Regions from separate parts of the Homo sapiens genome. Here regions 2, 3 and 4 are each reported to be linked to region 1. The links are microRNA targets in miRTarBase. Many come from high-throughput screens and were not tested one by one. Region 1 holds a microRNA gene; each other region holds the end of a gene's coding sequence.

Region 1 (7,117 bases):
TCCCACCTATGGAAACATTTTCTCTTTTAATTTGTATCTTCACTTTCCTCCTAACCCATTCATCTCTTTAACATATTTTTTATTTCTTTAACATATTTTTATTTCATTCCATTCCTTCCCTCTTTTCTCATCATCTCGATAATATGAGACTAAACCACAACTTTAAATGTCTTCTGTTTATTGAATATAAAGTTGGTTTCCCTACAGAATCAAAAGTTCTAAAAAAGAAAACTTAAAAAAATTTAAGTTGGCATTTTCAGAAACAGAAAATCAATTACGGCATGTTCCTCACTTCTAAGTGGGAGCTAAACAATGGGTACACATGGACATGAAGATGGAAACAGTAGACACTGGGGACTCCAGAAGGGGTAGAAGGAAGGAATACAAGGACTGAAAAACTATCTATTGGGTACAATGTTCACTATTTGGGTGATAGGTTCACTAGAAGCCCAAACCCCAGCATCGCCTATTATATTTATGTAACAAACCTGCACATGTACCCCCTGGATCTAAAATAAAATAAAGTTGGCATTTTATATCTTGCTCTTTAATTTAAAAAAACTAACACACAAAAGCCAAAGCTTCTAAATTTAGTAGGTTTTATTTTTATCACTAGGTCAGTGATTCTTTATAGAAAATAACATGTTGAAATTTAACCTTAAAAAAAGACAAGATGAAAATAATATTTACATGGAAGATATACTTAAACATAAATCTCCTGAAAGTGAATAACACTGGGCAACATCAAAAAGAGGATGTGATTTGAAAGTAGTAAAATGCGTAAGAATCAAATTATAGATATCTATTTAACCCATGTTCTAGAAATATGTTTAAATAAGGAAAGCATAAAAATTATTTTACCAATAACTTATAATCCAGTACAGTAGAGAATGCGAAATATTTCTTATATCTCATCTATGGCTTAACTAACTGATGGCACCACCAAAGTCAGTTCCACTGACTGGCTGCAAATGTCCGCACAAGAATACTGCATGTCTGGAAGCCAGCACATATCTATGCTACTTCGTGGGTCAAAATGCCTCCAAGGTAATGAGAATATATTTAAGGTCATATTGTATGGTCAGTTCTTCCCACTTCACAAGTTGTTAGATCTCATGCTGTCTTCCAAATATTTCATGAACCTGTGATTTTACAGAAAATGAAGTGAAAGGATTGAGGTAGATCTTCCAAAAAAATGTAAACCATCCCCCACCCAAAAAAAATCCCCAATATTCTTGATATTTCAAGTGAAAAATGTTTTAGTTGACTGACTCATCTGGAAAATTACCTCAACTTTCCCTTCAGTTGGTACACACACAGTCATGGCTATAGAAACCAATTCTAATGCTGTATTTAGAAACTAATGATGCAGAGGCCGGGCGCAGTGGCTCACGCCTGTAATCCCAGCACTTTGGGAGGCCGAGGCGGGTGGATCACGAGGTCAGGAGATCGAGACCATCCCAGCTAACACGGTGAAACCCCGTCTCTACTAAAAATACAAAAAAATTAGCCGGGCATGGTAGCAGGCGCCTGTAGTCCCAGCTACTCCAGAGGCTGAGGCAGGAGAATGGCGTGAACCCGGGAGGCGGAGCTTGCAGTGAGCCGAGATCGCGCCACTGTACTCCAGCCTGGGCGACAAAGCGAGACTCCGTCTCAAAAAAAAAAAAGAAAGAAACTAATAATGCAGAAAGAATCCTAAAGACTTCACTGAAAATCTGGGGACACATTGTAGGTCCATTCCACATTGTTATTACATTCTAAACCTTATAGTTAAAAACATGTAATTTCATAAATACTTAAACACTGTCTACTCCGAAAGACTCCAAAGACTCCAAAAATATTTCTTAAAAATTTTTAGTTATGGAAAAGCAGGCATAAGTAAATTTTTCTTAAAAGGAAAAAATTTAAGTAATTGTAATACTTTCCTTACCATTATAAAACTGTGCATTGTAAGTATTACTGTATTATAAGCTAATGGCAATAATATATTATGGTAAATAGTGGCTTGCTTCATAGCAGAAAGTACACATAAACACACACTAATTACAGATTCAGTTACACTCTGATGTTCATTGTATATGCAATAAGACAGCAGTTGCATGTTAGCCGATGCCATTCACATATTCAACCAGCTAACAATACACTGCCAGCTCATCACACACAGGTATCCAGAGCACTTCATTGACAAGAAGAATTTATCCAGAAGCAAGTGGCAGGGTAGTTGTGGCTGCTGACTTGACCCAAGCAGCCAGCTAACAATACACTGCCTACCTGATTCAGGTCACTGCCGATTCTCGTGGCCCAGGCAGTCACTGAGGCTAAATTTGTAACATGAAACATAGTGGCAGAACTCTAATCTTAATAGTCACATTAAAGAAAACTTATACACAAAATGTATTACTTCAAGACTATAAGAAATAAAATCAATATTTGCTTGAATCTAGTCAAAAACATAAAAGTTAAACAAAAACTTTAAAACTTTCAGAATACTTACATTTAGGTTTTCCAAATTAAATGCTTGGATAAAAATATGTTCTACAGTACAAATGAATTTTAAAAGTTACTTAACTGTAGGCTGGGCGCAGTGGCTTATGCCTGTAATGCCAGCACTTTGGGAGGCCAAGGTTGGCTGATCCCCTAAGGTCACAAGTTCAAGACCAGCCTGGCCAACATGGTGAAACCCCGTCTCTATTAAAAATACAAAAATTAGCCCAGCGTGGTGGTGCTGCCTGTAATCCCAGCTACTCAGGAGGCTGAGACATGAGAATCACTTGAACCCGGGAGCTGGAGTTTGCAGTGAGCCGAGATTGCACCACTGCACTCCAACCTGGGCAACAAAGTGAGACTCTGTCTCAAAAAAATAAATAAAAAGTTACTTAACTATAGCTTTTCAAATCACTTCTGTTTACTGATCCAAAGACTACTTGTCTGTATTAGACAGTAAAATATCTAGGAGTCGTGATAATACATAAGCTGTGCACGACACAAAACTGCAGCAGTGTTTGGGGGAAAAAATCAACATTAAAGTATTTAAGAAATGTAAGGGCTTAAATGCAATTAGTTTTCTCCTACTAGAAATGACATTAGTAATCGAGTTCTGAAAATGCAATTATGTATTCAATATAGGATGTTACCACTTGAATACTGAATTTTTTTTTTTAAGAGGCAGGGTCTGGCTCTGTCCTCCAGGCTGGAGTGCAGTTGTGCAATCATAGCTCACTGCAGCCTTGAACGCCTGGGCTCAAGCAATCCTCCTGCCTCAGGCTCCCAAGTAGCTGGGACTACAGGCACATGTCATCATGCCCAGCTAATTTTTGCAGTTTTTTTATAAAGACAAGGTCTCCCTGTGTTGTCCAGGCTGGTCTTGAAGTCTTGGCCTCAAGTGATCCTCCTGCCTCAGCATCCCAAAGTGCCGGGATTACAGGCATGAGCCACAGTGCCTAGTTGCAAAATTTATATAAGATCTAGAAAAATCTATTAAAATGGTGGTGGATTTGGAACTAGAATCTCTGCGTACAGGTCAAAGGAAGATGAACTATTGAGCCTAGAGAGAAGCATGGTAAATGGTGACAGAGATTTAAAGCAGATGAAGGCTCTTTATGAAACACGTTTATAAAACCATTTAAATTTGTTTCCTTTTACACTGATTACAGGAGACACTAAAGACCTTTGGGTTTGGTCTTTCAAGGAGAACAGGTACTACATTGGATCAACTTTAAATTGCTCACGTTAAGAACCATGGTTTATGCCACTTCTCCACATTGTCCACAAGATGGCACCATTTCCATTTCTTTGGGGGGCGTGCTTCTGAATGCAACAGAGAGGAGTGCAACTAGCAACTGTTAAAATCATTAACAGCCGCTAGCAATACACTGCCTACCTGACACATCCCAGCTTTATCCTTTGCTGTGGAGGCAGAAACTAGAAAGTACGATTCAGATGCAAACGATTGCATTATTTGTCTGGGATCTTCAGTTTCATAAAGAAATTTTTTTTAGTATGTAATAAGATACTAAAATTCTCATATTTTCAGACCAGCTCAAACTTCCTACAAATACATTATTTACCAAGAATTCGTTTGTTCAAGATCAGAATTAAAACAGAGAACAAGAACAAGCCCTGGACTCACGTTGGCGGAATCTTGACTTCTCTTCTGCTTCAAGTCTTTGGAGAGCACACGCATGATACTTTCCTTTGAAAACACAGATAACATATTGAGGGAGAAACTATTTAGGAAAATCATAATTTCAGGTGTGGAATTTTTCTAGATCTTGTGCTTGTCAGATTACACTTTTTTTTTTTTTTTTTTTTTTTTTTGGCAACTAGGCACCTTCAGAATATAACTAAATTACATCACTCAAATTTACGACCAGGGCTTAGAGTTTCGTACCACCTCTTGGTCCTAAACAGATATTATGAACGGGGCCTTCGGCCCCGCATTAGAGAGTTAGGGAGAATGCAGAAAAGGGTGTTACTCACCCACAGCATCTCCTCTTCCGTGCGGACCCTCCGAGGCGCGGTGCGCTCCAGTTTCCACTCCATCTCCGGCTGACTTCGCCCTGCCTGGCGTTTGGCCTCTCTGCTCGACTGCCTCTGGTTTTCTTCCCAGGTCTAAGTCAGTCTTGACGCCTAATCGTCAAACCCCTGGAGTCCCGTCCCCCAGGACCATTCTATTTCACCACCTCCCTCCAGGTCCCCCACTCCTCCCACCGCCGCTGCAAGGTGTTCCCCAGGGTACCATTTAAAAAGCCGGCGGGGCGGCAGTCGGCGCGGGAATCCCCCTCGCCGGCTTCTTATTGGCCGGCGCCGCGGTGTCGTCAGAGCCCGGGTGGGATTCCCCGGCGCGCGCCGCGGCCCCGCCCCTGCCGGCCCTCTCTGGGCCCCGCCCCGCCACCGCCTCCGGCCGAGGCGCGCACCCGGGCGCCAAGCTTTGCCGCGAGCCGTGGCGGGCCTGCGGCTGGGCCTGGCGCCGGGGGCTGCCACCGCGGCAGGAGGCGGAGGGGTTGGCGGGCGAAGAAGCGGGTTCTGGGAGTTCACGATCTTTCCATTTTCAGAAACAAGAATGTTTCCTTATAACGGCCCTGATCCCTGTTCCTCTGCACCCACTTCTCTTTCTCCAACCACACCCTGCCTTTGCAGGATCCGAGCGTGCACAGCTCTCCGGCCTCTGTCCGTTGGTAATCGCTGTGTCAGCTATAGATGTGAGGCGTGTTCGTCAGCTCTTCGTTTTCAGAAGGCAAGAAAACGTGGCAAGATTTCTATGCCGATCAAAAGGGAGAGCGTTGACATATTTATGCAATAAATTATTCCCTGCTCTATACATTGGGAGTAGTCAGGTCCTCTCACTCGGGCTTCTGAGCCCTGTTCCTTAGCAGGGGGTAGGTGAGAGAGGTGAAGAGGTAGTGAAAGAACCAGTGACAGGCAGGACCTCATAAGGCGTGAAGAGGGGGCCAGAAAGCTGAGCACACTGGGGACTCCGTGATAAAGGGGGAGAGGAAGATATTGAGGGTTGAGGAAGAGGTCTGGCGGGAAATGACAGGGAACCAGATGGGCTGTGCAGCCTTAGCTGCCCATCTGAGCTGCCAAGAGAGCCGAGTTGTGCCATATGGCAGGAGGGGACACTGCATCTGGGAAGCCTCTGACAGCCTGGCAGCCTGTTTGTCCCTCCCTTGCTAACCCCCCAACCATTTTTGACATTGGATTGTATTTTGCTCTAAGGCAATGTGAGTTTGTGTGTTTTTCTGGGGAAACAGTTCATAGATAGCAGATACTCAAAAGGGTCAGTGATCCAAAAAAAAAAAAAAAAAAAAACCTAAAACTCACTCCCCTGCTTTCCTTCATACTGAAAGCAAGAAAAAATGGCATTAGAACTAAGACCCAATCTTAGACCAGTTTTCTATGTACAATAATAATGCTGCATAGGGTAACTTAATCTTCAAATGACATATATCAAAATGTTTGATAGTCAAATAACTAGTGGATTAAAAGATCTCTAAGTTTCACCCACAAGAAGTCTATTTTCCTTGCAGTGGAGTACTCATTCCAAATTCCAGTAAATCTTTCAGCAAACATTAAGACTAAATAAAAGTAAACTATTATTGGATGAGAGTCAGATGCATTGTTAATTTAAATGATCAGTTTTGCAAATGCCAACTAAAACTCAAAGTATATTGGAAATAATATGAAGGACATATTATCTTTGTTCTATTTTTAAATATAGTTTACATTTAACCATTTTGTATAAACACAGAATAAAAGCAATTCAACTAATAAGCTCATAAATCCATGTAAATTGGGATTTTTAGAATCCAATTTCTTACAAGTACTAAGAATAGTGAATCATTCATTTAGAATGCAATTATCTGTAAAAATACATTTATAAATTCCATTATAGCCATTAATTCCACAGCATACATATACACAGCCTCCAAATGTCTTTTTTTCCCCTAGTGTGAAGTAGAGAAAGTATTAGTCAAATATCTTTAGGAAGTAATTATGCAGTTGAATATTCAGATTAAAACTTAACTTCAGAATGATGGAAACAGAAACTCGCCACTTGGCAAATATTACAGTAATAACTGTCAAGAATACTAAAATTACCTTGCATATGATGAGAATACTTCCCCCTATAATTAAACACAAAAAATAAAATCACAACTTTTCACTGGCCAAAACTGGCAGAGACCACCTTAACCAAGTGATCAAAGTTAACATCACCATTAGTGAGACATGTTGACATACTGTGCCTCATGAGAAGGACACATCACTTCTGTGATATTTTTGCCCCACAAAATGCATAACCTTAATAGTGAGAAAATACTAGACAAACCCAAATTAAAAGACTTTCCACAAAATTGGCCAGTACTTTTCAAAAGTATCATAGTCATCAATAAAGAAAGAGTAAGAAACTGTCACAGATTAAAAGAAACAAGACATGCCAACCAAATGCATTGCGAGGTCCTGGATTGAATCCTGGACCACAAAAAAGAAGATATTGGTTAGATAACTGTAGAAATTTGAATTGATCCATATCTGCAGATTAGTTAATAGAGTAGTAGTAATGCTGATTTCCTAGTTATGATTATTGTACTATAGCTATATAAAATGTTAAGATTTG
Region 2 (7,110 bases), not on the chromosome of region 1:
GGCGACGCACACCTGTAGTCCCAGCTACTCAGGAGGCTGAGGCAGGAGAATTGCTTGAACCCAGGAGGTGGAGGTTGCAGTGAGCCAAGATTTTGCCACTGCACTCCAGCCTGGGCAACAGAGTAAGACTGTCTCAAAAAGAAAAAAAAAGGTGGGGGAGGGGGGAGGGATAGCATTAGGAGATATACCTAATGTAAATGACGAGTTAATGGGTGCAGCACACCAACATGGCACATGTATACATATGTAACAAACCTGCACGTTGTGCACATGTACCCTAGAACTTAAAGTATAATAAAAATATATATATATATAGAAAGAAAAAAAAAACTCACTTCTTTTCATGACCTAGTTCAAGCTACAGCTCCCAAACTATAGCAATTATTCAAAAGTTATTTAGAAACTAAGTACTGTGACTATGACATCTTTTCTGTTATTGTCTTGAATTTAAACTCCTAGTAGGGAACCCTCATATATTGCTGGTGGGAATTTAAAATAGTGCAGCCACTTTGGAAACAGATTGGCAGTTTCTTTAAAAACTAAACATAAACTTACCATTTTTACCACAGATTCCTAGGTACCTATCCAAAAGAAATAGAAACTTACGTTCACACAGACTTGCATGCTAATGTTCAGAGCAGCATTATTCATAGTAGCCAAAAAAATGGAACTTAAATGTGTCATCATGTGATGAATGTATAGATAAAATGTGGAATATCTGGCCAGACTCATGCCTGTAATCTCAGCACTTTGGGAGGCCGAGGCAGGCGGATCACCTGAGGTCAGGAGTTCAAGACCAGCCTGGCCAACATGGCAAAACCCGCCTGGCCAAGATGGCAAAACCCTGTCTCTACTAAAAACACAAAAATTAGCTGGGCGTGGTGGCACACACCTGCAATCCCAGCCATTCGGGAGGTTGATGCAGGAGAATCACTTGAACCCGGGAGGCAGAGATTGCAGAGAGCAGAGATCACGCCACTGCACTCCAGCCTGGGTGACAAAGCAAGACTGCGTCTCAAAAAAAAAAAAAATGTGGAATATCCAAACAATGGAATACTACTTAGCAATAAAAAGGAACAAACTAACGTATGTTATGAACCTTTAAAACATTATGCTAAGCGAAAAGACATAAGAGATCATATACTGTAGGAGTCTATTTCTATGAAATATCCAGAAAAGGCAAATTTATAGAGATGAAAATTAGATTAGTGTCGCCTAGGGCTGGCAGTAGGAGCAGGGATATTTTGGGGAGATTAAAAAAAAGTTCTAAAACTGATTTATGGTGATGCTTCCACCACATGGTAAATTAAATCACTGAATCATACACTTGATATGGGTCAATTTTACATGTGAATGTATTTCAATAAAGCTGTTAAAAATAGATCATAGTAGGCACTCAAATATTAGTTGAATATTTAACCTCTTACCTGTTTAATCTCTTTTCTCACCACCTCCTCCCCTGCAACTAGAACTAAACATCTTGAGGGTGAGGACCAAGTCTATTTATTTTCATGCTTATTTTTATGACAAACCACACTTAGCCCAAAGTTAAACACACACTTTGTGCTCTTAACTATTTGCGGATTTGATGTTTGTCTTGTCAGGCTATGAAGGGATGCCATGCAAGAGCATCCAGGAAGAAATGGTCTGTTGCAATGTCGAGGCAAAATAACTGGGTTCTGAACAGCAGCGCTTTCATTTCATAACTATGAACTCACAGCAAGTTAATTGCCCTCTCTAAGCCAAGTCTAAAATAGGGAAAATAGTAGTAGCTACCTCACATAGTTGTCTTATATAAGGACAAAATGAGATAATTAAACAAAATGTTTAGCCCAGCCCATGGAACACATAGAGCTCGCTGAATGTTGGCTTAAAATGTAACACAAATCCAACACAAATGCACACATACCAGAGAACTCTGTCAAACAGGAGAGTGGTCCTGGGGCACCTTCTCTCCCTCCCAAGCCAATTGGTGTTCATGTGTATATGGAAGTATTACAACTATATATTTAACAAATTGAACTAAACATACCCCCAAACTTCAGTATTTTGTCTATCCATTCCTGACTCTCATCCTACAAGATAGGATTTCACTTCCGACCCCCTTGTGGTTTAGCAGGGCCACGTGTCTACCTTTAAACAATGAATTGAAGCCGGGTGTAGTGGCTCACACCTGTAATCCCAACACACTGGGGGGCCAAAGTGGGACGATCACTTGAGCCCAGGAGTTTGAGACCAGCCTGGGCAACATAGTGAAACCCTGTCTCTATAAAAAATTTTAAATATTAGCCAGGCATGGTAGCCTGCACCTGTAGTCCCAGCTATTGATACTAGGCAGGCTGAAGAGGGAGGATCGCTTGAGCCCAGGAGGTGAAGGTTGCAGTGAGCCCAGATTGCACTAATGCACTCCAGCCCTGGTGACAGAGCCAGACTATCTCCAAAAAAAAAAAAAAAAAAAAAAACAATAATTGTCAGAGTGACCAGATCATGTATTTGTGCAAGACACTCCACAGCTCCCTCCCTCTCCCACTAAAACTAGCAATGGTCCAGTTAGTGGCTGCTCTGTCACCCTACATAAAGACAACGTGGAACAGATCCCCAGCTAAGCTGCAATGGAGAGGGAATGTGAGTGAGAAACCTTGTTCTTTGCCTATGAGCTCTGGTGGTGTTCCCACAGGATAACCTAGCGTAACCTGACAGATTAGTCATGGAGCTCCCAGGCTGTAGATTATTTTAAATCCCTCACCCCAAAACTTAAGACCCTTTATTCCCTGGCTTCTGAAACAAGCCACTCTTCCCATTCTGTTAGCCTCTCTGACCATTTCTCCACTTCCTCATGGACTCCATTTCCTCTGCCTACCTTGTTAAGCCATGCTGTTAACCAAGAATTTGTCCCCAGCTTGTGACTCTTCTCATTCTACACGTTCTCCAGGGAGATCTTACCCACTTTTGATTTATCCACCTGCCGCTCCAGTGTCATAAATCCAACACATCCAAAAGCAAATGCATCAGCTGCCCAGCCCCCTCCAGACATGCGATCTTCCTACACTCCTCACCTCAGTGAATGGCACCAAACCTGAGCCAGAAACCTGGCAGCGATGCTAGATTCCTCCCCGTCCCGTCCCATCTCGTCCTACTACCCGCACCCAGCCCACTCAACCAACCCACCAGTCCTGGCAATTTTACCGCCTTTAAATGTTTGTTATTGCTGTTGTTGTTGTCCAGGGGAAGGGACATTGTTTATTTCTGCTTGTTTGATGCTTATTACAGTAGATACTTAAAAAAAAAAAAAAATTATTTCAGGCTCAGGGAAAGTCTTATTTTGGTGTCAGCCCTGACTGTGATGCTCTATCTGAAAAGGAGGACAAACAGTTTAATCCAGACCAAGAAACAAGCAAACTTTAATTTCCGAGTACACAATTATGAAACTATGCCAGTAGCGACCTGCATGTTTGTCTCATCTCTTTAGCCACTTAAGTTCTCAAAACACTGCCAAAGCTTTCCTTCTCTATTAAACTCCCTTAAGCATTACTCATACTATTATTCAAGTTTAAGATGTGGCAAATCTCCCCAAGTGTATATGGCTGGTTCTCTTCTTATAAATGAATCCATAAGACAGTGTCCCCTAATTCATCTCTATTTTCTCTAACCTGCTTGATTTTCTAAAATTGGAAAAAAGTAATTCCGGTATACTAAAACCAGAGCCCAGGTTTCTCAACATCTTCAGTTAAATGACTTTTAATTCCCCAATCAAGGTATAACACACAAATGTTATCTGCGCTTTACAGTATAGAACTCTGAGTGGCTGGTGTCTTTTGGTTAGTGTAACCATTACACAGCAGTATCTGCTTGTCACCCCGGTCTTCTTTAGCCTCAAAAAATATTCAGAATTTGTTATGCACATGGGAGATTTCTTACAGCAGCACACTCACTTACAAAAAGACCAAAAAAATTTTATTGCTTTACAACAAGCCAGCAACAAACACAACTGAATAGTTATAAACATGACACTTCTAAATCCTCAAATGGAATTCCAAGACCAGAGTGTGCTTCTCCACTTTAATAGCATTTGTTAAAACTGAAATCCACAACTTCTGGCAAGTACTTCAATATTCTCAAGCAGAATCAATACTTAAAGAGGTTAAAAGAAAAAACTATTATCAAACGTATTGTCTGTGGGATGATCTAATTTAAAAGCCTTTCATGCTTGATCCTGGCAGTGCTATTACTGCACATTTTAAGTGACCATCATGGGCACTTTTAAGAACCTAACTTCACAAAAAGAGCTGTCACAAGAAAATTGTTCTAAAATCCCAATGCACAGTAACTCATGCCTCATTTCAACTGCTTTCCTCATGATGAAAAAATGTAGTCAGCCTTTAACTTGGCCTGATAAAAGCTGTGAAAGGTATGCCAAATGGCCCCTTGTACAAACAGGAAGCCCAAATTGTTGATCAGGCAAGAAAAGGTGACACTTTTAGATACTTCATATTATTCTGGAAAGCACTTTCCTTTCAGTGGGTGCAAAATAACTACGGATTAAGTCACCATTTTAATCATCTCAATTCAATAGCAAGAGTTTCCTGGCACATACTCTTAGTACTACCTGAAAATTGGGGCGTGTGGGGAAGACCACCAACAGTATTTACATGACTTGCCCCAAACTGTACATTTAAAACATGACTGTTGGGATAGTCACCAACAACCTGAAATTTCTTACTCTAAAACACATTACCAAATCCCACTGATTTATTTTGTGTGTGCTTTCGTGGTTTTTGTTTTTATATAGAGATGGAGTCTCACTTTGTTGCCCAGGCTGGTCTCGAACTCCTGAGCTCAAGCAGTCCCCCTGCCTCGGCCTCCCAGTGTGCTGGGATTACAGGTGTGAGCCACCACGCCCGGCCTGACTTATTTATAATTCACTATTTTATCTTTCTTCCAGACAAAGCAAAGCATTTTTCTCTAACAACATAATAGTCAGGATTTTGCTTATTAACTTACGTGGGTGGCTTTATACTCCCAGAACAAATGATCTAGCTGACTACTAGGAAAAAGGTTTCATAGTTTAGGAATATATCACATCACGTGTTAGTTCCAAATGTACATGAAGACAATTTTTAATTGCTGCAATAGCAGAATATTAAGGCAACATCAGAAAGCAGAGGTGTTTTAAAACACTAAGCCCTACTCCCTGCCTGGTGGAAAACAAAATGATGTTACTAAATCCCTTAATACAAAAACTTTCCAAAATAATCTGTTGAGCTTGACTTCGCAGTTTAATCTTTTACAGTTTGATGGCAGTGAGAGAGAACCTGCAGCTATAATTCCCTTGGCAAAAGAATTCAACATCTGATTTACTCACAATGCTTAAAATAAGGAAGGGAAAATATAAAATAAGTTTTCCTTGCTTGGCAACCATCTTTTTAATTATCTATTTTTATACTGTATCCAGGCTATGCCTGGGTGTGGATGGCTAACTCGCATATAGAAAATATCAAGCATCACATCTGGAAGAATCACAAACGAGACAATGAACTTCTCAATCAGTACATCAACAGTCAAGGTAAGCAAGAAAAGGACTTTACCAAGAAACTAACATTTACACTTTCTGACGGAACTGAAATACACTGAATTACAGGCATATTCACTGAAACAACAAAAAAAATTCTGTCCATGTAAAGGCTATATTTTTTACCCCCAAAAAAGTGTTTCAATTCTGATACTCACACCACAACTGGTTAAGAAAATAAAGCGCAGTGTTTAGCAACTGAGCATCCTAACTACCGTAAGAGGCACTCTGTGCTCACCCCTTCCTGGCAACCGCTGAGGTCAGCAAGGCCAGGAGCAAGGAGAGCCTCCTATTTTTCAACACAAGCTGCTGCCGTCTCCTTATTAAAGCCCCGGATGGAGAGATCATAGACCACTTCCTCTACTTTCTTCACGTCATATTTCAATCCGTCGTAGCGCTTCCTCAGGGAGTCATTTTTCAGGTTGAGAAGGCGAAAACCGGAATCCAGCTCATTGATGAAGGTGGAGATGTGGAGGGGTCGGGAGTAGTCTCCAGCAGTCACGCTGTTGACAGACAGCCTCGACTGTACCAGGAAAGAGAAAACAGGGGCTTGTTACAACATGGCTCCTTCTCAGCGCATCTTCCTCTGAATCACAACCAGAAGAACCGCAAGCCTAGACAGCCACGCTGATCTTCTATCTCAGGGTACACACAAGTACAGACAAGACAGGAGCTTCTCTGAAAAGAATCCCACTGAAAATGAGACCAGTTCTGCCAAGTAAAATTTAACATTACTAACATCTAAAATTTCTCTAATTTCTTAAACTGGCTATTGCATAATAAAGTGTTACATTACACAAGCATCTTTACAGCTCATCTGCTATCATATCGAAGAAAGAAACGACAAAATAATCACAGCAGCTCCACTACCTCTTCCAACCTTGGCCAAATGATCACATTTCTAGAGCCCACCTACTAAGCTGCAACTCCAGTCACCTAGAATCAAGTAAGGCAGACTTGGGATAAGAATCTAAAATTATGTTAGTGTAACCCTGTCTTGAAGGAGAACTAACATTGATTTCAAGACCCAACCCAAGACTCCCCTTCTCGGTGTCAGTATACAACCCCCTACTGCTCCATTTGACTGGCTTTAAAAAATATATTAAAATAATAAAAAAGATTCCCCTTTCTGTAAAATCCTCTCCACTTTTCCAGGCTTACCCCTTTAGTGCACTGTCAACATACGGGTTTTTTGTTTGTTTGTTTGTTTTTAATATAGAGAAGGGGTCTTGCTTTGTTGCTTAGGCTGGTGTGGAACTCCTGGCCTCAAGGGATCCTCCCACCTTGGTCTCCAAAACTGCCAGCATTACAAGCGTAAGCGACTGTGCCCGGCCCCAACATGTATGGTCCTAAAGACACCTTACACTTAACTAATACTAACAAGATGCTTCCTGTTTACTGGTCAGGTGTCTCCAACAAGCCAGACAAGTGGTACAGCCTACAAGTGGACCCCATCATCCATTCTCACCATCTTCCTCAGGTTTTCAATGCACACATACCCACTCCAATAGACTCCATTTCTGCCTCCCTGCAGGCAAGGC
Region 3 (7,118 bases), not on the chromosome of region 1:
TGGGTCATGAGGATGATAAATCAGACGTCTTGGGCATTAGATTGAAGCATCTCAAAACACCTTTTTATCCCCTTCTATATAGGCACCTGTGTCTGCTAAAAAAGAAAAGAAAGTTTCCTGCATGTTCATTCCTGATGGGCGGGTGTCTGTCTCTGCTCGAATTGACAGAAAAGGATTCTGTGAAGGTAAAATCCTAGTGCTTATGGCAGTTAAAACAGGAACTGGGTTTAGGGGCAAGGGCATGGGACTGGGGTAGAGGAAGTGTCATTAACTATACTGAGTATCAGTAAGTTTTCATCTTTCTCATTGCTAGGTGATGAGATTTCCATCCATGCTGACTTTGAGAATACATGTTCCCGAATTGTGGTCCCCAAAGCTGCCATTGTGGCCCGCCACACTTACCTTGCCAATGGCCAGACCAAGGTGCTGACTCAGAAGTTGTCATCAGTCAGAGGCAATCATATTATCTCAGGGACATGCGCATCATGGCGTGGCAAGAGCCTTCGGGTTCAGAAGATCAGGCCTTCTATCCTGGGCTGCAACATCCTTCGAGTTGAATATTCCTTACTGGTGGGTAGATGCAGGGTGGCTTCAGCAGAGAAATTGTTCATCTGTTACCACAGCTGTCTTGTTTCTCCAGACCTCTGGTGTAATAAACTGCCATCTTCCTTTCTAGATCTATGTTAGCGTTCCTGGATCCAAGAAGGTCATCCTTGACCTGCCCCTGGTAATTGGCAGCAGATCAGGTCTAAGCAGCAGAACATCCAGCATGGCCAGCCGAACCAGCTCTGAGATGAGTTGGGTAGATCTGAACATCCCTGATACCCCAGAAGGTGAGCCAGACCTAATGTCTTTTCTTTGTTTCTGGTCTACCTGGGTTTGTAAAATTGTGATGGTCCAGCATTTCTTGGGCAGGATTCTTATGTGGCCATATTTTCTTTTCTAGCTCCTCCCTGCTATATGGATGTCATTCCTGAAGATCACCGATTGGAGAGCCCAACCACTCCTCTGCTAGATGACATGGATGGCTCTCAAGACAGCCCTATCTTTATGTATGCCCCTGAGTTCAAGTTCATGCCACCACCGACTTATACTGAGGTGAGGATTGTCATCTTTACTGTTAAATTTGTCCTAAGCTTTCTATAAGAAGTTGACTTAGACGGATTGCTAAACTGGTTTGTTCTTTTTGTTCTTACCTGAACTGAAATAGTCTGTTTCTTTCTTTAGGTGGATCCCTGCATCCTCAACAACAATGTGCAGTGAGCATGTGGAAGAAAAGAAGCAGCTTTACCTACTTGTTTCTTTTTGTCTCTCTTCCTGGACACTCACTTTTTCAGAGACTCAACAGTCTCTGCAATGGAGTGTGGGTCCACCTTAGCCTCTGACTTCCTAATGTAGGAGGTGGTCAGCAGGCAATCTCCTGGGCCTTAAAGGATGCGGACTCATCCTCAGCCAGCGCCCATGTTGTGATACAGGGGTGTTTGTTGGATGGGTTTAAAAATAACTAGAAAAACTCAGGCCCATCCATTTTCTCAGATCTCCTTGAAAATTGAGGCCTTTTCGATAGTTTCGGGTCAGGTAAAAATGGCCTCCTGGCGTAAGCTTTTCAAGGTTTTTTGGAGGCTTTTTGTAAATTGTGATAGGAACTTTGGACCTTGAACTTACGTATCATGTGGAGAAGAGCCAATTTAACAAACTAGGAAGATGAAAAGGGAAATTGTGGCCAAAACTTTGGGAAAAGGAGGTTCTTAAAATCAGTGTTTCCCCTTTGTGCACTTGTAGAAAAAAAAGAAAAACCTTCTAGAGCTGATTTGATGGACAATGGAGAGAGCTTTCCCTGTGATTATAAAAAAGGAAGCTAGCTGCTCTACGGTCATCTTTGCTTAGAGTATACTTTAACCTGGCTTTTAAAGCAGTAGTAACTGCCCCACCAAAGGTCTTAAAAGCCATTTTTGGAGCCTATTGCACTGTGTTCTCCTACTGCAAATATTTTCATATGGGAGGATGGTTTTCTCTTCATGTAAGTCCTTGGAATTGATTCTAAGGTGATGTTCTTAGCACTTTAATTCCTGTCAAATTTTTTGTTCTCCCCTTCTGCCATCTTAAATGTAAGCTGAAACTGGTCTACTGTGTCTCTAGGGTTAAGCCAAAAGACAAAAAAAATTTTACTACTTTTGAGATTGCCCCAATGTACAGAATTATATAATTCTAACGCTTAAATCATGTGAAAGGGTTGCTGCTGTCAGCCTTGCCCACTGTGACTTCAAACCCAAGGAGGAACTCTTGATCAAGATGCCCAACCCTGTGATCAGAACCTCCAAATACTGCCATGAGAAACTAGAGGGCAGGTCTTCATAAAAGCCCTTTGAACCCCCTTCCTGCCCTGTGTTAGGAGATAGGGATATTGGCCCCTCACTGCAGCTGCCAGCACTTGGTCAGTCACTCTCAGCCATAGCACTTTGTTCACTGTCCTGTGTCAGAGCACTGAGCTCCACCCTTTTCTGAGAGTTATTACAGCCAGAAAGTGTGGGCTGAAGATGGTTGGTTTCATGTTTTTGTATTATGTATCTTTTTGTATGGTAAAGACTATATTTTGTACTTAACCAGATATATTTTTACCCCAGATGGGGATATTCTTTGTAAAAAATGAAAATAAAGTTTTTTTAATGGAAAAAAAAATGTCTGTGAGATGGCTTTGGAAAAGTTTTTGGAAAGAAGGTGTGTCTAAAGGAGTTTTCCTCTACTTAACAATCCACACTAATGAAAACCTTGTGGAGAAAACACTCCCTATGGACCCTAAGGAATGTCGGCAGAGTGGGGGCTAGAAGGTGAAGAGGGAAACCGTTTGAGGCATGTTTCAGATTCACTGAACAACTATACTGGGATTTTCCGGTTGTCTAAACTAGTTTTCCAAATCCATAGGTAATCATTACTAAATTCCTTCAGTTTTGGAGTTCATGGGTTCTTGAAATACAGGGAGATGATGTTTATGAGGGCATTTGAAAGAAAAGAGTGGCGGTTCCTTTTTTTGAGACAGTCTCACTCACCCAGGCTGGAGTGTAGTATGATCTTAGCTCACTGCAGCCTTGATTTCCTGGGCTCAAGTGATCTTCCCATCTCCGCCTCCCACATAGCTGGGCTACAGGCATACACAACTACGTTCAGTTAATTGTGTGTGCGTGTGTGTGTGTGTATGTGTTTGTTTTTTCTACGCTCAGCTAATTTTTTGATTATTTGTAGAGTTCGGGTTTTGCCATGTTGTCCAGGTTGGCCTCAAACTTCTGGGCTCAAGTGATCTGCTGGCCCTGGCCTCCCAAAGAGTTGGGAATACAGGCGTGAGACACCACACTCAGCTGAAGATCCCCTTTTTACAATATGGTTTTATCATAGGGTTTCTTCCCAATGTAAACTTGATTTATATACTAACAAGGATAACTTCAGGACTTAAGAGGTTATAGAGTTATGAGTATTAAATTCTTTGGAGGCAGCTAACCATTTTTTATTTTCACAGTTCCTAACCAAGCACATAACTCAGTAAATGTTTGCTAACTATTCAACTTCACCCTCATCCCTTAGATGATTTGATGGTTCCTATTCCTTGTAGGGTAATAGTAGTAGAGTAATACCACAATCCCATGTTTAATTGGTGTGATTTTCTTTCTTTCTTTCTTTCTTTCTTTTTTTTGAGATAGAGTCTTGCTCTGTCTCCCAGGCTAGAGTGCAGTGGCCCAATCTTGGCTTAATACAATGTCCGCCTCCCAGGTTCAAGCGATTCTGCTACCTCAGACTCTTGAGTAGTTGGGATTACAGGCATGAGCCACCACACTCAGCTAATTTTTGTATTTTTAGTAGAGACGGGGTTTCACCATGTTGGCCAGGCTGGTCTCGAACTCCTGACTTCCCGTGATTCACCCGCCTCAGCCTCCTAAAGTGCTGGGATTACAGGTGTGAGCCATGGCGCCCAGCAGTGATTTTCATTCCTAAAGAACCGACAGGTGGAGAAACCCTGGGATGGCCAATTTAAATATTTGCACAGATCTGGTCCTGGTCCTTATTTGGGAATTGATTTTTCTGAGGACTTCCACAAACTAATTCCAAATAACAGGCTCCTGGAAATTCTACATGAAATCAGTGTGGGGTGTTGTAGCTCTAGCTACTCACAAGGCTGAGGCAAGAGGATCATTCAAGCCCAGAAGTTCTAGGTTACAGTGAGCTATGATTGCACCACTTGCACTCCAGCCTGGGGGACAGATTTTGTCTCAAAAATAAATAAATAATAAGCAAACTAAAATCAATGTGAATTTAACAGAAAGTGAGATTTAAAAGATCCTTTTCCATTTCAATCCTCATTTTTCGTTTATCTTTCATTTTCCATAGCACTCTCCTCCCTCTCTTTGTCTCTCTTTCATTACCAAAGTGTCAGTCTCTATTTCTCCCTATTGCCAGGGTGACTTTCACCTGAACTCTCCGCCCCTTTCTCACCTGTGCAAGAATTTAGTGGCTCCTCTCCTTCAAATCTGTGACCAGGAAATTAGGTCAAAGTTGATGGAAAAGTTTTTTCTGTAGCTTGTTTTCCAGGGCCTAGAGGGGTGAAGCAATGATAAGAGCAGGCCAGAGAGCAGGACAAAGGAATGGAGAGACCATGGAGTACATGAGCCTGGTTGTGTGCACAGTTGGGCTACCAGTACCCAATATGAGAAGAGGGATGGCTTCGAAAGGATAGATAACTTTATACCCAAGGCCTCTTAGAGATCTGATCCTAGGGCCAGGCGCGGTGGCTTACGCCTGTAATTGCAGCTACTCGGGAGGCTGAGGAAGGAGAATCACTTGAACCCAGGAGGTGGAGGTTGCAGTGAGCCCAGACTGCACCACTGCACTCCAGCCTGGGCGACAGAGCAAGACTGTCTCCAAAAAAAAAAAGAGATCTGATCCTGGAAGGGCCAGAACATGGGCATCTCCTCCGGATACCCTTAATATCCTTTATCCAGCTGTCCAAATAGAACTTTCTATGATGATGGAAATTTTCAATACAGTAGCCACTAGCCCTGAAATGTGGCTACTATGACTGATAAACTGATTTTTTTTCTTATCTTTTTTTTTTTTTTTTTAGATAGGGTCTCATTCTGTCTCCCAGGCTGGAGTGCAGTGGCACAATCTTGGCTCACTGCAGTTTTGACCTCCCAAGCTCAGGTGATTCTCCCACCTCAGCCTCCCAAGTAGCTAGAACTACAGGCACATGCCACCATGCCCAGCTAATTTTTTCTATTTTTTGTAGAGACAGGGTTTCACCATGTTGCCCAGGCTGGTCTTGAACTCCTAGGCTCAAGCAATCTGCCCACTTCAGCCTCCCAAAGTGCTGTGCACACATTTTTTTTTTTTTTTTAAACAGGGTCTTGCTCTGTCTCCCAGGCTGGAGTGCAGTGGCATGATCTCTGCTCACTGCAGCCTCCACCTCTCAGGGTCAAGTGATTTCCCATCTCAGCCCCCTAGTAGCTGGAACTACAGGTGCATGGCACCAAGCCCGACTAATTTTTGTATTTTTCATAGAGATGAAGTTTTGCCATGTTGCCCAGGCTGGTCTCAAAACTCCTGGGCTCAAGCGATCCTCCCACCTCAGCCTCCCAAAGTGCTAGGATTACAGGTGTGAGCCACTGTGCCCAGCCTGTAACTGAATTTTTAATTTTGTTTAATTATTTATTTATTATTATTATTATTTTTTGAGATGGAGTTTCTCTCTTGTTGCCCAGGCTGGAGTGCAATGGCGTGATCTCGGCTCACTGCAACCTCCACCTCCTGGGTTCAGCGATTCTCCTGCCTCAGCCTCCCAAGTAGCTGGGATTACAGGCATGCGTTACCACACCTGGCTAATTTTGTATTTTTAGTAGAGATGGGGTTTCTCCATGTTGGTCAGGCTGGTCTTGAACTCCCGACCTCAGGTGATCTGCCCATCTCAGCCTCCCAAAGTGCTGGGATTACTGTGCCCGGCCCAATTTTGTTCAATTCAATTAAACTTTAGCTTTCTGTGACTAGTGACTGTCACATATGTGACTAGTGACTAGTGACTAGTGACTGCCATATTGAATACCACATCAAAATCTAAGGGAGTAAGCAGCTAGAGCTGTTCCCCCAGAGGAAACCTATCCTTCTCTTACAGCACAAAAACTCCACTCTACTTCTTTTTGCCTTGTGTATACAACTTCTACCTCACCCGAGGACATTTTCCGCGTACAGGCTTGCTTCAGTACACTTCCTTGGGGAGTGGCTTAGCTATTTCCCCACTTAAGTGGGGGAATATTCTGGGTCTTCTTTGCCTATCCTCTTCTCACGTGCCTTTTAATTTTTAAGTAGCTATGACCTACATGTACAATGATTAGAGGAGATGTGGTTCTGAGTATCATTTATTCAGTAGGTTTAATCTGGTATAGGGAGATCTGAGAGAACTAAAAAAGAAAACTACCTAAAGAGAGAAAAGGGCAAGAAAATAAAATTAACAAGAAAAAGGGGCCGGGTGCTGTGGCTCATGCCTGTAATCTCAGCATTTTGGGAGGCCAAGGTGGGTGGATCATTTGAGGTCAGGAGTTTGAGACCAGCCTGGCCAACATGGTGAAACCCCGCCTCTACTAAAAATATAAAAAATTAGCCAGGCGTGGCAGGCACCTGTAGTCCCAGCTACTTGGGAGGCTGAGGCAGGAGAATCACTTGAACCTGGGAGGCAGACATTGCAGTGAGCCAAGATCACGCCACTGTACTCCAGCCTGGGAGACAGAGAGAGACTCCTTCTCAAAACAAAACAAAACAAAAAACAGGTACTTCAACAACCAGAGTCATTGGCTGCCTTGATTGATACCTCTGAACAGACTGGAAACACAAGGATCTAACTTGGGTTGAGGCACTGGGAAGGAAAAATGTGGAGGGGAGGATCTGACAAAGCACATGTTCAGCAAAAAACAATCACACAAGAGCTGAAGGGCATGAAGTGGAGTCAAGGAGTGACCTTTGCACAATTCTTTTTTCTCTTTTTGAGAGAGGGTCTCACTATGTTGCCCAGGTTGGAGTGGAGTGGCTATTCACAGGCACAATCATAGCAAACTCTGACCTTGAACTCATAGCCTCAAGGG
Region 4 (7,120 bases), not on the chromosome of region 1:
AAAATGACCACAGGGCCCCCTGATCACCAAGGGGCACAGATCATGGAGCCATTTGAGGGTGCGGATGTAGTCAGGGAAGGCTTCCTGGAAGAGGGAGGCTCTTGGGTAAAAGGGACAAGAGGCATGTTCCTGGTGACAGCTCTTTCAGCCCTGGGCAGTAGGCAATATTCGGATCCCTCTGGATCCTGCTGGCAGATTGGTTGGTAAATGTGAGCTCTCACTCTTGGCTACTCCACCTTCCACTCTCCCTGTCCTCATTCCAGCTGTGGCACAGGGGTCTGGGCCTGTGTGTCCTTAAGACAACCCAGCTATTTCCTATCCCTGCCCACCTAATCAGGGTGGCCAGTGGGCCACTGTGGGACCCGAGGCCATCCTAACCCCACATCTCTGTCTGCAGCTGCAGAGTACAGGCCGGCTGCTGGAGGAACAGCTGCCTGAGATGATGACAGAGCTCCTGGCCAGCGCACGGGACAAGATGCTGTGCCCCTCGGAGTCCATGCTGACCCGGTCGCTGCTCCTAGAGGTCATCGAGCTCCACGCTAACAGCTGGAACCCTCTGACGCCCCCCATCACGCAGTACTACAACAGAACCATCCAGAAACTGACAGCCTGACAGCCAGGGGGCCTGGCAGGCGGCCCACGGGCAGCTGGGGCCCTGGTGCACAGGGCCAGATGGACAGGCGGGAGGACAGGGGTGGCCCTGGCGGGAGAAAGAAATGGGGAGGAGGGCAGGCAGAGTCGGTGGCCAGTCTGGAGCCAGACGGGGAAGGGAGCAAATCCCTGAGAGGAGTGCCCCCGCACAAGCCCCCCAGCCCGAGCATGCAAGCTCACACCAATAAGGGAAGCATGTTTCTTTTTCCTGGTGGCCCTGGCCCTCCCCTTCCTCACTCCCGCCTCTCCCCTCCCCATCAGACCCATCCCCCACGGAGCTTTGTGTGAGGGATCTCATCGCTGTGACTCCTCGGAGACCTTGGCAGCCTCGCACGCCGGGGCACCGCTTGGGTCAGAAAGGACCTCGGAAGGCTGAAAAAGTGGGTCGGAGACGGGCTCGCATTGTTCCCGCATGCTGTCAGCCGCAGTCGCCAACTGGCAGCAGGCGACGTGTAGCAGATGTCCGGGAGGACAAAGGCAGGCACGGTCCCCACCAGCCGCCCGTAATTGACGGCCTTTGTCAGCCATGGCAGAGCTGACGCTCCACCTCCCACCTCCAAGTCCTCCTCACTGCAGCCCCCACAGCCTCAGGCCTAGGGGGTCAGGCGCAGCGGGGGAGATGGAGTTTGCAGTTCCACTTGCACTCTTTTGTTTATTGTGTTTTATTTTTCAAAAGTCGGTTGCTTTGAAGTCTCTTTGGCCAATGAAAATGCCCGTGATGTGATCACACAGTCAGCACTGTTGAGGACCCCCGGATTAGTGGGAGATCAAACCCAGCTCCCCTCTAGAAGAAGGATTCGAGCCACAGACAGCTTGCCAGTAGCCAATTAGGGTAATTGGAAACTTCTGCCCCGGCGGGGGGTCCCCGCTGGAATCCTGTGTTCCTCGCCACTGGCTTCCAGCGCCTCTGTTTTCTCAAAGGGCTGATACTGTCACCACTGGGACCAAGTTAAACCTGGTCCTGGCCCCAGGGGCCTTGTGGCAAACAGGGCACAGAACGAGACTGGCAAATTAAAACCAAAATTCTAGATGGTGTCTTGCGCTCCACACGCAGGTCTTACTGGGGAAAAGGATGGGAGTGGGGGCTCCCCAGGACTCGATTTTAGCTAATGCGCTGTGTCACTGCCCCAGCTCGGACGTAGAAGCCCAGCCCTCCGTGAGCTCTTGGGAAAGGGGTGAATTCACTGGGTCATGGAAGGGACAGTCAGGTGACCAGCGGGGTCGCCAGATGAAGCTTCCCAGCCGGGAAACAAGACGGGGTTTCTTGGCAGGCCCTGGTCCTGGGGAGCAGGCCCTGTTGTTGGCTGGAGAGGAAGGTGTGGGGTGGAACAGGTGTCCACATAGCTCCATCTCTGGGGGCTGGAGCACACACTTTGATGAGCCCCCCCGGAAATGATGTCAGAGCCTAGCCGCTTCCTTATTTGCTCTTTTATTGAGGCCGGGCAGGCCCTGGGTCACTTTGGAGGCCCCTCTTGGTCCACACTGGACTGGCCGGGAGGTGATGGGCGGGGAAGGTTCTCGTGATTGATTGATTCTGAGTCTGAGAGTGGCGAGTGGGGAGAGGCTTCCCCAGTTCTCTCCAGCTTTCCCTGCAGCTGCAACCTGCCCTCTGGTCCCAGGTGTGGAGCCTTTGCCTGTCTCTAAAAAGAGCCTGTTGGCGACAAGGTGTAGGGGGCACAAGTTTACCTGAAACAGGTCAGTGGTCTCTCCCAAGAAGCGCACGCCACCTCTGGTCCCTGGCCCTGAACCCTGCCTTCTTCCTCCCTCCACGGTTTCTTCCCAGACTTTCTCAAGCTCCTCCTCACTGCCCTTCCTCCCCAGCCCAGCCTGGGAACACAGATGCCCCGCGGGTAGGAGGCCTCGAGGGAGGAGCCGGGCTGATGCGGGGCTGCTCAGGGCAGGCCCCAGGGCGAGCTTGCCATCGTGGCCAGGCAGCCTCCACCTGTGCTTCAGTGGCCCCTGCCCCCCTGAAGCATGTGGGGTTTGTCCGCTAGGAGGAGGCAAGGCCCCCGAAGAGAGGAGAGACCTGGGAGTGGGAGCTCAGGTCAGGGAGGAGGCAGGGGAGTGGGGTCTCCCAGACCCAACGGTGAGCTCAGAGCAAGCTTCACGCAGGACGCTCCGAAACACTGTGTGGAGGGGGCTGTGTTGTGGGCACCTTGGGGCCTGATTCTCCTTCCTCCGAACGGGCTCCTTGATGGCCTGGCCACAGGGGCAGCTCCCCATTGGCTGTTAGGACCAGAGTGTGAAGAAGAAGTGAAATATAAATATGTATACATATATAAATATATTTTTAATTACATGTCGTGTCACGGTGGCTCCAGACATACTGTTTGCCTAGTTTATTCCACTGCTTGAAAGCGCTTCCTAGCCAATCTGAACAACAACACTTTAAGCTGTTTTTCTAAATGCAGGTTGCTGCTCCTTTTTCAGATATGGAAGGAAAACGTTAAGACTATTTTTTTTTTAAAGAAACAACAGTCAAGCCTAAAATTTGAGACCCCGAGGCAGCTTCCCGAGGGAGACTGCTCAGACAGGAACTGCAGGACAGAAGTGGATGCCCCACAGACCCTGGCCCCCTCCCCAAGTCCATCCCCTCTCTGTGGCATGAGGAAGGCCGCGTCCGAGTTGACCTCTGAATGTATGTGATGAGAGGCAGAGCTGGATATTGCATTTCTAAGGCTTGCATTGCTTTCCCCTCGCCCGCGGTTCTTGGCGCATGGAAGAGGCGGTCCAGCCATCTGATGTTGATCCTGTCTCAGTCTCCCCACTGCCTGTCAGGATGAGTTAGTCATTGTTTTTCTCCGAGGCGGCCTGCTTGCCACAGCCCTGCTCCCCAAGGCCTGGTGGCTTTGCCGAAGCTCTGGGACCGCAGCCCCAGCGAGGCCCCCAACCTCACCCAGACGAGGCCAGGAGCCCCGCCACCCTCCACGGGATGTGCACCCTCAGACCCCATTCTCTCTGTTCGTCCTTCCTTGACCAGTCTGTAAACCTTCACTGTTTGGGGATCGTCCTGTCCATCCATGTAAATGTAAATGTTGGCCGAGTCGGTATTTATTCTGATTGATTTTTATTTTATTCTATTATTTTCTCCGAGGGATGAGGGTGGGGGGTGTGGGAAGGGTACCACAGATCAGGCCGGGGCAGCTGTAGGGGCGGGGGCCCAGACAGCCAGGCCGCCACCAGAGCAGCCCCATGGGGTGCCCCAGACGCGGGCCTCCAAGAAGCCAAGTCCCAGTCTGTTTTCTGGCATCAGACACCGGCCCGTGTTCCTTGTCAGACAGACAGACTCTCAGGCCTGCCTGGGGAGTCGTGTCCCTCAGCTGCAGGGCACTGTGTTGGGAAACCATTGGCTGGGCCTTTGAGGACACAGATCAGAAGAAAGAAAGACAACTTTCCTCTGCGCGGAACACTCACACGGAAGGGCTGGCCGCCTCCCTGAGCCGGCTGGGAGTGGACGACAGGACCTACCTCCCCAGAGCAAGGGCCTGGGGCTTCCCGCCAAAGCTGCCGCGGAACCCCGCTAGTGCGACCACCCTCCCTCCGTCGGTATGTCCTGCTTTCCAGCTGAACCCAAACTACAAGTGGGTTTAAAAAAATAAACACCACCACCAAAAACAAAATGCCCAGAGTCTGTGCTCTTTGTGTGTTCAGCAAAAGAAACCTTTTCCCCAAGCTCATGTGCCTCAGCTATACTAGCAGGGCCTCCAGGAGCTGGCCCAGGAGATGAGCTGAGGGGAAGATTCTTGCAAGAAGTTGGTCCAGGAGACCATGGGTGAAGGAGACTTACTTACATCCCCCAAAACTGGGAACTAACTATGACCTATCCAAAGTGACCTGGACCTGTCCAGGATCAAGCCAGTCCTGGACAAAATGGCTTTTGCACTAAAGGTTTGGTTTAACCAACCCCCCCCAAACCTACCCCTTCCCTGGAAATGTCACTGTGGCATTTGGCAATGAGTCATTTCAAGAGGGCTGAGATTTGGGCCCAGTGGCTTTCAAAAGTCAACAGCGAGTGGCTGTCCAGTCCCAGTTGGTCAAATGAGTCTTTCATCAACGAGTCCCCAAAGGGCCCAGTGATTTCTTTTCCTGTGATGACATGTCTCTTGTTTTGCACAATCTTGTCTATGGCAAGGCACTGGGGACACTGTTTCCTGGTAACGCTCCCCTTTCCTTGGGGATTCTTTCTGGCTAGAACTTGCTGGTCCTTCAGCTCCTTGCAGGGGTCGCACCAGAGCACCAACTCCCTTCCTCCTTCCCTGGCCTGGCTACAATGGCGGCCAGGGCCTCCCAGGAGCCGGGTGAAGGCATGTTGAGATTCGGGCCTTGCCCTTCACTGAGTCACACACCCACCATGACACTGACAGGGACAGCCAGAAGTCCACAGACTGGGTAGAGAGAGAGAACATTTTAATTAAACAACTGAGGTATGTGGCGGGCCAATTTTTTTTTTTTTTTTTTTTTTTTTTTTTTTGAGATGATGATGGACTCTCGCTCTGTCACTCAGCCTGGAGTGCAATGGCACGATCTCAGCTCATTGCAACCTCTGCTTCCCAGGTTCAAGCAATTTTCCTGCCTCAGCCTCCCAAGTAGCTGGGATTACAGGCACACACCACCACGCCTGGCTAATTTTTTTTGTATTTTAGTAGAGGTGGGGTTTCACCATGTTGCCCAGGCCGGTCTTGAACTCCTGAGCTCAGGCAATCTGCCTGCCTTGGCCTCCGAAAGTGCTGGGATTACAGGCATGAACCACCGCTTCCAGTCCTAATTTTTGTATTTTTAGTAGAGACAAGTTTTCGCCATGTTGGCCAGGCTAGTCTCAAACTCCTGACCTCAAGTGATCCACCCACCTCGGCCTCCCAGGGTGTTGGGATTACAGGCGTGAGCCACCGTGCCAGGCCCAAATTTATTTTTATAAAAATGCAAAGCAGTAGAAGCAGACATTGGAGGTCAAGATCAAAGGTAGGGCGACGATGAGGAACAGAGAGCCTTATCACACCCTGCAAAAGAGAAAGGAGATTTTCCTGGATGGGCTAGTCCTGCTTCCAGAAGGCCCTAAGTTACTGAATACTACGAGACACAGCATCGAAATAATACATGTTTCAATCCTGATTTCACCACCATCTTTCTGCTTGTAGGCATTCTCTTGTCATTTTAGAGTGTTTGTTTACATTTGTACTGGGATGCTCACAGCGTAACTTATAAGGGCCTTTTAAGGACCAAGGCAAAGATGATGATAGCAGAAAAATAAAGGGTTGAGCAGTTGAAATGGGAAAGAAGTGGTCCTGCCTTACTGATCTCCCTCATTCCTGCAGTTCCGCAGCGGCTTCCTTACACGGTCTCAGCTGGTCCCGTGAAGTAGGCAGGTGAGTGTTTTCGATTCCCATTTTATAGATGCGCCAAAGGCTGATCACCAGAAGAGCCAAGGCGAGGGTGAGCCCAGAAAGTGAGTGGGTCCTTCAGACTCCTCATCCCTGCAGCGCCCCAGGGAGCCAGCCAGTCACACCAGCCAGACAAAAGGAGCAGCCAGCTGCCCCCGGGACTCGGCAGGCTGCGGGCAGGCCACGTGGGCTTCCCGCTTCATTGGTGGAAACTAGGACCATGATGAAATACCTCAGATCAGGAGATTTCAGTGGAGTGGGCAGAAGGAGCGATGGTGCAGAATTTGGTGCCGTTCTATAAAAGGACCCATTATCATATGTGCAGTGTGTGTTGCTGGATCCCAGTTTCCCCCAGGCCAGTGAGGGGGACCCTGATAGGGGGACATATCAAGCATCAGGGTCAATACCCGAATTGCCTGGGAACATTTTCAAACTACATACTAAAACAGCACACACATACACACCAATATTTTCAGAATTTGGGCCTTGGGGAGCCCCTCTTCTTACTGGTACATGTGTGCTATGCCTTGGATGGGTGCAAGAGAAAAGATGGTTGAGAGCCGCCATCCATCACTCCTGGAACACAGTACGATGATGGCCATGGAGAGCTGTCATAAGTAGTGCAGAATTATTGTCTGGGGACAGCAGGCCATGCTGCTGTGCTCTTTTGCAATCTCAGGGTCTGCCATCTTGGCTGAAACAACACTGGCTGGCACATCTGCAACATGGGGCAGGGGCTCTGGCAAGTTGCTTGAATGTGGAACAGAATCCATACCATGGACTCGGGCTGCATTCTCACTCCTATGGGCCTTAGGTACTTTTGCCTTCATAGGCCCCTTCTTCCATTTAAAAAAAAAATGGAAATATTATGACTACATTGGTAATAGAGACAAATATATTATTTTTATTAAAACATTTTCTCCCACCTAGAAGTTCATTTTTTTACCCCTGATTTTAAAAAAATTAAAACACTTTGTGGGCCCCTAAAAAACATTTTGTGGGCTCCTGTCTTAGTCCATTCAGGCATCTGTAACAAAGTACCATAGACTTGGTGGCTTATGAACAACAGACATTTATTTCTTAAAATACTA

Evidence for each region. The annotated mature microRNA hsa-miR-449a reads UGGCAGUGUAUUGUUAGCUGGU and lies in region 1 at 2,128-2,149, opposite strand. An mRNA with a match to its seed (bases 2 to 7 or 8) in the 3' UTR can be bound and repressed. Matches are read on the target gene's strand: a 7mer-m8 pairs with bases 2 to 8, a 7mer-A1 pairs with bases 2 to 7 and ends in A, and an 8mer does both.
Region 2: miRTarBase lists TSN as a target of hsa-miR-449a. Seed matches in the 3' UTR shown: 8mer at 5,296-5,303 and 8mer at 4,215-4,222.
Region 3: the mRNA of TXNIP is a reported target of hsa-miR-449a. Seed matches in the 3' UTR shown: 7mer-A1 at 2,324-2,330.
Region 4: miRTarBase lists CTIF as a target of hsa-miR-449a. Seed matches in the 3' UTR shown: 7mer-m8 at 1,772-1,778, 7mer-m8 at 2,454-2,460 and 7mer-m8 at 3,417-3,423.

The regions. Positions count from the first base shown.
Region 1 is chr5:55,168,459-55,175,575 of GRCh38, forward strand. It overlaps MIR449A (microRNA 449a), which reads right to left and starts at 2,164; the gene lies at 2,074-2,164. It overlaps CDC20B (cell division cycle 20B), which reads right to left and starts at 4,719. Exons shown (of 12, transcript NM_001170402.1): 1 at 4,480-4,719; 2 at 4,130-4,192. The coding sequence starts at 4,542. MIR449B (microRNA 449b) reads right to left here and starts at 2,284; the gene lies at 2,188-2,284. MIR449C (microRNA 449c) reads right to left here and starts at 3,895; the gene lies at 3,804-3,895. RefSeq lists silencers at 4,443-4,737, 4,825-5,154.
Region 2 is chr2:121,764,116-121,771,225 of GRCh38, reverse strand. TSN (translin) reads right to left here. Exons shown (of 6, transcript NM_004622.3): 6 at 3,373-6,092. The coding sequence ends at 5,859. Among named protein-coding and RNA genes, the nearest start is that of TSN, 12 kb to the right of the region's middle.
Region 3 is chr1:145,987,996-145,995,113 of GRCh38, reverse strand. TXNIP (thioredoxin interacting protein) reads left to right here. Exons shown (of 8, transcript NM_006472.6): 4 at 83-185; 5 at 314-570; 6 at 677-833; 7 at 947-1,098; 8 at 1,228-2,679. The coding sequence ends at 1,263. Among named protein-coding and RNA genes, the nearest start is that of TXNIP, 5.0 kb to the left of the region's middle. RefSeq lists enhancers at 456-505, 2,327-2,406.
Region 4 is chr18:48,858,947-48,866,066 of GRCh38, forward strand. It overlaps CTIF (cap binding complex dependent translation initiation factor), which reads left to right. Exons shown (of 12, transcript NM_014772.3): 12 at 398-4,271. The coding sequence ends at 613. Among named protein-coding and RNA genes, the nearest start is that of CTIF-AS1, 21 kb to the left of the region's middle. RefSeq lists an enhancer at 3,422-3,973.